Homo sapiens: one gene and its partner. The protein of the gene in region 1 binds, or shares a complex with, the protein of each later gene. Each region holds a gene or a part of one and is shown on either strand. Other genes may lie near its edges. The genes, in order: EXOSC5 and EXOSC2.

Region 1 (3,910 bases):
TCACAGTGGAAAGAGAGCACAGGTTGGGAGTCAGCTGGCTCTGCCTCAGTTTCCTAATGTGTTTCTTCTCCAGGCCTAGCAGCCAGACAAAGACCACAGCTTTAGTCAACCGGTTCCAGCTCTGCTGCTGATCCTCCACGCCTTCCTCTGGGCTTCACTTTCCACTTCTGTAAAATGGGGTCACAATACCTTCTCTCTCTGCCCATCCATAAAATGTCTGTCCAGTTCAGGGCCACGTTCCAGTAAAGCCTTCTACAGTGTCTAATTCTAGTCCTCAACCTCAACCTCTCGCACCTCAGACATGGAGATCTTACAAGGCCACGCTCCTGACTCAGCTGCTGTCTGCTCAGGGCGCCCCCAGCACTGAGGGCCTGAAATCCACTGAGGTGCCGAGTAGAAGTGATTGCCAGCCGGGCACAGTAGCTCATGCCTGTAACCCCAGCACTTTGGGAGGCCAAGGTGGACTGATCACTCGAGGTCAGGAGTTCGAGACCAGCCTGGCCAACACAGCAAAACCCCGTCTCTACTAAAAATACAAAAATTAGCCTGGCGTGGTGGCAGGCACCTGTAATTCCACCTGTAATTCAGGAGGCTAAAGCATGGGAATCGCTTGAGCCCGGGAGGTAGAGGTTGCAGTAAGCTGACATTGCACCACTGCATCCAGCCTGGGTGACAGAGTGAGAGCCTGTCTCAAAAACAAACAAAAAAACCCAAAAAACAAAAGAAGTGATTGGCACAGGCTCTGGAGTCAGACTGGCCTGGGCTTGAGTCCTGCCTGTGCTGCCTTCCAGCTGTGTGACCTTGGGCAAGCCCCTTCCCCTCTCTGGGCCTCAGTTTTGTCACCTGAAACATGCGAACATAAGAACACTCATCTGCCAGGGTCCGTGGGCTCTAGAACTAGACGGTCTGGGTCTAAGTCTTGGCTCTGCCACTTCCACGGGGATCATAAGGGCATGTGCTATATTACATGAGTTAATGTGCATAAGGCACACAGAACAGTGCCTGGCACATAAGTAAGCACCCAGGCTGTTTGCTCTCCTTCTTCAGTGAGCTGGTACCTGTCAAGTGTTTGAAGGCTTTCTGGCTAGCAGTGAGGGTATATGTATCCGCCAGGAGGGAAGCAATCAGGAGACTTCCTGGAGGAGGAGGCCTGGCAGAAAGGATACAGAGCCGGCATCGCTGACAACCTGCAGCACCACGGTGATGGAGGTGCGGGGGTGCAACGTGCCCAGCACCACCGCCTCGCACGTGTTCCTGATCAGCCGCTCCCGGCTCTTCTCTGCAACACCTGGGGAAATTGAAGAGAGGTTCAGGGTCTTCCCCTTCATTTGACTCACCTTCCTCCATACGCCTCACCCAAATTCCCAGAAAGGGCTCACGGTCTCAGCCTGGGATGGTGCAGTTACCTGCAGGGATGATGGAAGATTCCAGTGGGAAGAAGGCAAGGCCTGACTGCCATCCACTGACCCCTGCTACCTCCAGCATCCACCAAGGGAACCATCCAAGGGAAGAAGACCTGGGAGTTCCATGTCTGTGCTGCTACCCACGCCCACTCCCACCCTAGCAGGTCCAGTCAGTGGGGACTGAGGGATATGAGGGTAAAAGGGTGGAAAAACAGGTTAATGGTCCAGGCACAGTGGCTCGCGCCTGTAATCCCAACACTTTGGGGGGCTGAGGCGGGCGGATCACTTGAGGTCAGGAGATCAAGACCATCCTGGCCAACATGGTGAAACCCCATCTCTACTAAAAAAATACAAAAAATTAGTGGGCATGGTGGCACGTGCCTGTAATCCCAGCGACTCGGGAGGCTGAGCCAGGGGAATTGCTTGAATCTGGGAGGCAGAGGTTGCAGTGAGCTGAGATCGTGCCACTGCACTCCAGCCGGGGTGACAGAGCGAGACACTGTCTCCAAAAAAAAAATAAATAAATAAAAATAAATAAAAGAAAAACAGGTTAATGGAATGAATGAGAGTGGAGGCAGAGAGAGGGAGAAAAGAGGGAGGGAGAAATTAGAGGCAGAGAGAGAAGCAACAGAAGATGAGTTATTAATTAGAGGCGGAGAGTTAAAGACAGAAACAGCTGAGTGGAGACCCAAGCGGGGAGTGGAGACTCGGGGCAGCTGGTAGGGAGGAGCTGGGGGGGTGATTTTGACAAACTGGGCACCACTCAGAGGTTCAGCAGGGCCCAATTACCAGGCAGCCCAATCTTCGGCCTCAGGATCACTTCGAGTGTGGCCTTGTTGAAAATCTCTTTGCTGACCTTCACCTCGGCCGGCCCGTACACACCCGCCAGGACAGAGGTGTCACCTGAGGAGACAGCAGGGAGGGCCTCACTCACAGCTTCCCTGCTCCTGGGGCCCCATTTGTGGCACTGAGCCTGACGGCCAGGGCTCCCCACGTCACCCCCGCCATTTGTTGGTACTGATTCTTTGAGCACTCACTTCATTTCTCTCATTTGTAAAATGGGGAAAATAGCAGTCCCTCCCCGCTAGCGTCTTGTGAGGATCAAAGGACACAATTCACAGAAAACACTTAGAACACTGCGGGGCTCACGCTGAATGTGCAACAGACTTTAGCTGTATTAGTAACATTCGTCCATTCAGGCATTCAGGCAGGGTCTCACTCTCATTGCCCAGGCTGGAGTGCAGTGGTGCCATCACGGCTCATTGCAGCCTTGACCTTCTGGGCTCAAGTGATCCTCCCGCCTCAGCCTCCCAAGTAGCTGGAACTACAGGCATGTGCCACCATGCCTGACTAATTTTTATATTTTTAGTAGAGAGGGGATTTTGCCATGTTGCTCAGGCGGGTTTCGAACTCCTGGGCAACTGTAATCCCAAGGTGCTAGGATTACAGGCGTGAGCTACCACGCCTGGCCCTGATATTAGTAATTTTTTTTTTTTTAATGAGATGGAGTCTTGCTCTGTCGCCCAGGCTGGAGTGCAGTGGCGTAATCTCGGCTCACCGCAACCTCTGCCTCCCGGGTTCAAGCAGTTCTCCTGCCTCAGCCTACTGAGTAGCTGGGATTACAGGCGCGCGCCACCACACCTGGCTAATTTTTTTATTTTTAGTAGAGACTGGGTTTCACCATGTTGGTCAGGCTGGTCTCGAACTTCCTGACCTCATGATCTGCCCGCCTCCCAAAGCGCTGGGATTACAGGCGTGAGCCACTGTGCCCGGCTGGTATTAGTAACTTTTAACAGGAAGTTCTTCCTGAAAGCTAACCATCCTCCCTCTTACTGCAGCTGCTCTCAACTTCTCTTTCCAAAGCTTCCCCAGCCCAGCTCTTCCCTTAGGCACTGGCCCCCAAATTTTGCATCAGTCTGGACACCTGAGAAAGGGATAATATCTGGAATGAATCCTGATTCCTTATTTCCCCAGAAGCTATGAACGGGGTACAGGAGGTAAAACCTAAGAAATAAACAGCCTGGCTTCTAGTACTGTCTGCTGTAATCCCAGCACTTTGGGAGGCTGAGGTGGGTGGATCACCTGAGGTCAGGAGTTTGAGACCATCCTAGTCAACATGGTGAAACCCTATCTCTACTAAAGATACAAAAATTAGCTGGGCATAGTGGTGGGTGCCTGTAATCTCAGCTACTTGGGAGGCCGACGCAGGAGAATTGCTGGAACCGGGGAGGCGGAGGTTGCAGTGAGCCGAGATCACACCATTGCACTCCAGCCTGGACAATAACAGCAAGGCTTAGTCTCAATAAAAAAAAAAAAATACATTTTAGGCCAGGCATGGTGGCTCACACCTGTAATCCCAGCACTATGGAGGCCCAGGTGGGAGGACTGCTTGAGGCCAGGAGTTTGAGACCAGCCTGAGCAGCATAGGAAGACTCCTGTCTCTATTTTCTTTTTTGGGACAGAGTTTCCCTCTGTCACCCAGGAGGCTGGAGTGCAGTGGCGCAATC
Region 2 (3,910 bases), on another chromosome or scaffold:
CACTCCAGCCTGGGCAACAAGAGTGAAACTCCGTCTCAAAAAAATAAATAAATAAATAAATAAATAAATAAATAAATAAATAAAATAAAGACAGAGGCCAGGCATGGTGGCTCATGCCCGTAATCCCAGCACTTTGGGAGGCCGAGGTGGGCAGATCACCTGAGGTCAGGAGTTTGAGACCAGCCTGGCCAATATGGTGAAACCTGTCTCTACTAAAAATACAAAAATTAGCCAGGCATGACGCACGCCGGTAATCCTAGCTATTTGGGAGGCTAAGGCAGAATTGCTTGAATCCAAGAGGCGGACGTTGCAGTGAGCCGAGATCGCGCCACTGCACTCCAGTCTGGGCAACAGAGCAAGACTCCGTCATTAAAAAAAAAGAAAAATTTAAAAAATAACATAAAATAGAGACAGAGTCTTGTTCTGTCACCCAAGCTGGAATGCAGTGGTGTGATCATAGCTTACTGTAGCCTTGAGCTCCTGGGCTCAAGCAACCCTCTGGCCCCAGCCTCCTGAGTAGCTAGGACTACAGGCATGTGCCACCACGCCCGGCTAATTCTTTTTTAATTTTTTTGTAGAGAGGGGGGTCTTGCTATGTTGCCCAGGCTGGTCTTGAACTCTTAGGCTCAAGCAGTCCTCCCTCCTTGGCCTTCCAAAGCGCTGGGATTACAGGCATGAGTCACCACACTCGGCCTGTCATTAATATCTTGACGTGAACAACACCTTCTCCACTCCCTGCGCTAAAAGTTAACACCATTAACAAAAGCCTAGTCTAAAGCACAGGCCACCGTAAGTTACAAGACCCAAAGAAATGACTTAGCAGCAGGTCCCAACAAGAGCTGGGGAGTCAGCCTGAATTAAGGAGACTGAGAAAGGATGCAGCAGAGCCCGACACTTGGTCTAAGACTCGGATCCCTGCAAGGATGACATGGTTCTTCCGTCAGAGACATACAATGGAAGGCCCATTTCCCAGTCCCACAGAAAAGCATCAAGAGGCTGGAGTGCAAAGCGCAGGATACACTGATAAGGTCCCCTTCCTGTAAGAAACCTCTCATTGCAAGCTCATCTTCTGCAGATCTTCTCCTCTGAAATACACAAAGAAATGACATTACTTAAGCCAGATCCTCAGAAAGGTCTCCATCACTTCTCTTTCACTTCCTTTTGAGATGTTTGAGGCCAACCACAATATTCAAGCACTGAGAACTATAGCAAGAGTAGGTAACCCAAGCCACTTGAGGGGAATCAGTGATAATCACGACTTTCCATCTCAAAAGACTTTTCCACAGCTCCTCTTCCTCTTTCCCTCCCTTCTCTGAGGAACATTCAGACCCCTCCCAATCTCACCTAGCCAACATTTCCATAGTCATCTTCCATGACAGCCCTCTGTGGTCCAGCAGGACCAGACTAACTCCTGCTTGGATATATCTCTGCTCATACATTTCCCTTTATCTCAGATTCCCTGAACTAGTCATTCAAAGTCTCTCCATCCTTCCAGGATCAACTCCAATGCCTGTCTTTCCTACAAGCTTCTCTCACTGAAATTTCCTTTTGTATAACCACAGCTTATTTATTCTTCTACTGCCAGGGACTAGGTCAGTTATCTTATATCCCCTGCTGGGGAACTCAATCGTGCTTGGCACTCGGCACAGAGCTTGGCACAGTAAGCCTCTCTGTAAATACACGCTGGACTGAAGATCAAGGTGAACCATGGCATTTTACAAAAGGCTGTGGCTTAGTTACTGTGGTTGTCTGGAATGCCAGCAACCACATTCCACACATGGTTGAATGAAATGCCTTTCAATTCACAAAAACCTAATGTAAAGACAACTTTTCAAGGAACATCTTCACTATGCAAGGCTGTTATATCCAAAAAGGAAAACTGTTAACAACCAGCATCTAAGGGCTTCTCTCCCCAACTCTCTGTTGGGATCCCACCCCATGGATGTTTCTGATCCTACCATATGCCAACTGCTCCCTCTTTCGGGAGACCTGGACAGGGTGAAAAGTCTACATACACATCTAGGCAGCAAACTTCACAGCAGACAAACAGGAGTCAAAGGGGCAACCTCAGTGTAAATCAAAGTCCTCTGGTGGAACAAAGGGTCCCACGGCTCCCCCCAGCCCACTGGGCCCTAGTCCATGGCCCCAGCTGTAGCCCTTACCAGCTCTCCTCCAGGAAGGTTCATGGACGAGAGCAGCAAGACCGAATCCAGCCTGGAGTTGGTCTCCACCTTCCACCTCTTCTGTTGAACCTATAAGCCAAGTTCCACACCTGGACACATGCTCCATGTTCATGTGTCATATCATAAATAACCAGTAAGGCCAGATGTGGTGGCTCACGCCTGTAATCCCAGCACTTTGGGAGGCCGAAGCTGGTGGATCACTTGAGGTCAGGAGTTTGAGACCAGCCTGACCAATATAATGAAACCCCATCTCTACTAAAAATACAAAAATTAGCTGGGCGTGGTGGCGGGTGCCTGTAATCCCAGCTACTTGGGAGGCTGAGGCAGGAGAATCGCTTGAACCTGGGAGGTGGAGGTTGCAGTGAGCCAAGATCATGCCACTGCACTCCAGCCTGGGCGACAGAGCGAGACTCCATCTCAAAAAAAAAAAAACATGAACCAGTAATCTGAAATCGAACAAGCCACATATTTACATCAGAAGCCACACAACGGCCAAATGCAATGAATGCCTTTTTCATGTAACTACAAGTGGAATGACTGTCCCATGAATGAAATCGCCAGCCTGCCTCGACTTTGTAAACACCAATCTGATATCGACGTTACCTCTGTGATTCGTCCCACTACGATGTCTCCTACTTCACCAATGTATCTGAAAGACAAAACACAAGGGGTTCATCCATCTGTGAGCAGACTTTCTGACAAGACCACACACCATTTGAGATGTCGGTTCAACAGGGTGAAAGCCTGGAACAGGCGCCACATTCAGCAAATTCATGTAACTATATTGTCTGGACTTACTTTCAGAAACTGCTAACTTCAAACATTCCTCCACGTATAAAGTCTCCATTAACTATCCTTAGACATATCACCATTCCAAGTAGTTCATTTAGCCCAAAAACCCTATTTTGTTCGATTACACGACAATGAAAAACACGGACTATTTTCCTGTGGCACATGGATGAGTTCTGCACCAGCCAAAGGAAGAGAAAGGAAATCTGAGCCAGGACTCCAACCACACAAGTCTGCTCACGTCTCCTCCACTTACTCACTGCCTGCTCCTCTCAAGCCCCTTTGCTAGTTCCTTACCCGCGATTCTAATGAGACGTACTCAGTGCTGAGGCTAAGTCCTTAGACCTCTTCACTTTTCGGCCACTCAATCTAATACCTTTAAAACACCACTCTGTGCTGTGACTGTGCCACTCTCCTGAATTCCAAATCCTACTCAACTGCTAGCTACCCAACTCTGCCATCTAGATGACTAACAGGCATTTTCAAATGTATCAAGCACAAAACTAAGCTTTCCCGCAGCCCCCTCCAGTCCTCCATAGCAAACCGAGATAGGGGATGAGTTGTCCCCATCTCAGTCAACGGTGACTCCATCCCCTCAGTTGCTCAGGCCAAAAACCTCGGAGAGTTCCTTGATTCCTCTCTCTCTCTCACGCTCCAGGACAAGTCCAGTAGCAAAACCTGTTGGCTCTACCCTTAAAACATATGCAGGAAATAAAAGGCATCCAAATTGGAAAGGAAGAAGTAAACTTATTTCTATTCACAGTTGACGGGGTCCTATGCACAGTAAAGCCCAAAGAATACAAAACCCAACAGCTTTTCATGATTTTAAAAAAACACTCGGAAAATAAAATCTGTGTAGATTCCAATCACTCCTCCACCTTCCACTGCTCCCACCTTAGTTGAAGCCACCATCACTTCAGATCATGAGTATGGTCCCT

What was found.
Region 2: EXOSC5 (region 1) and EXOSC2 share a complex: the UniProt entries of both Homo sapiens proteins name them as parts of the RNA exosome core complex.

The regions. Positions count from the first base shown.
Region 1 is NC_000019.10:41,390,675-41,394,584, forward strand, and holds part of EXOSC5 (exosome complex component RRP46), read right to left. Parts: intron 2,307-3,910; coding exon 2,193-2,306; intron 1,289-2,192; coding exon 1,167-1,288; intron 1-1,166. UniProt on the Homo sapiens protein: Non-catalytic component of the RNA exosome complex which has 3'->5' exoribonuclease activity and participates in a multitude of cellular RNA processing and degradation events.
Region 2 is NC_000009.12:130,696,504-130,700,413, reverse strand, and holds part of EXOSC2 (exosome complex component RRP4), read right to left. Parts: intron 2,833-3,910; coding exon 2,787-2,832; intron 2,253-2,786; coding exon 2,163-2,252; intron 1,086-2,162; coding exon 1,020-1,085; intron 1-1,019. UniProt on the Homo sapiens protein: Non-catalytic component of the RNA exosome complex which has 3'->5' exoribonuclease activity and participates in a multitude of cellular RNA processing and degradation events.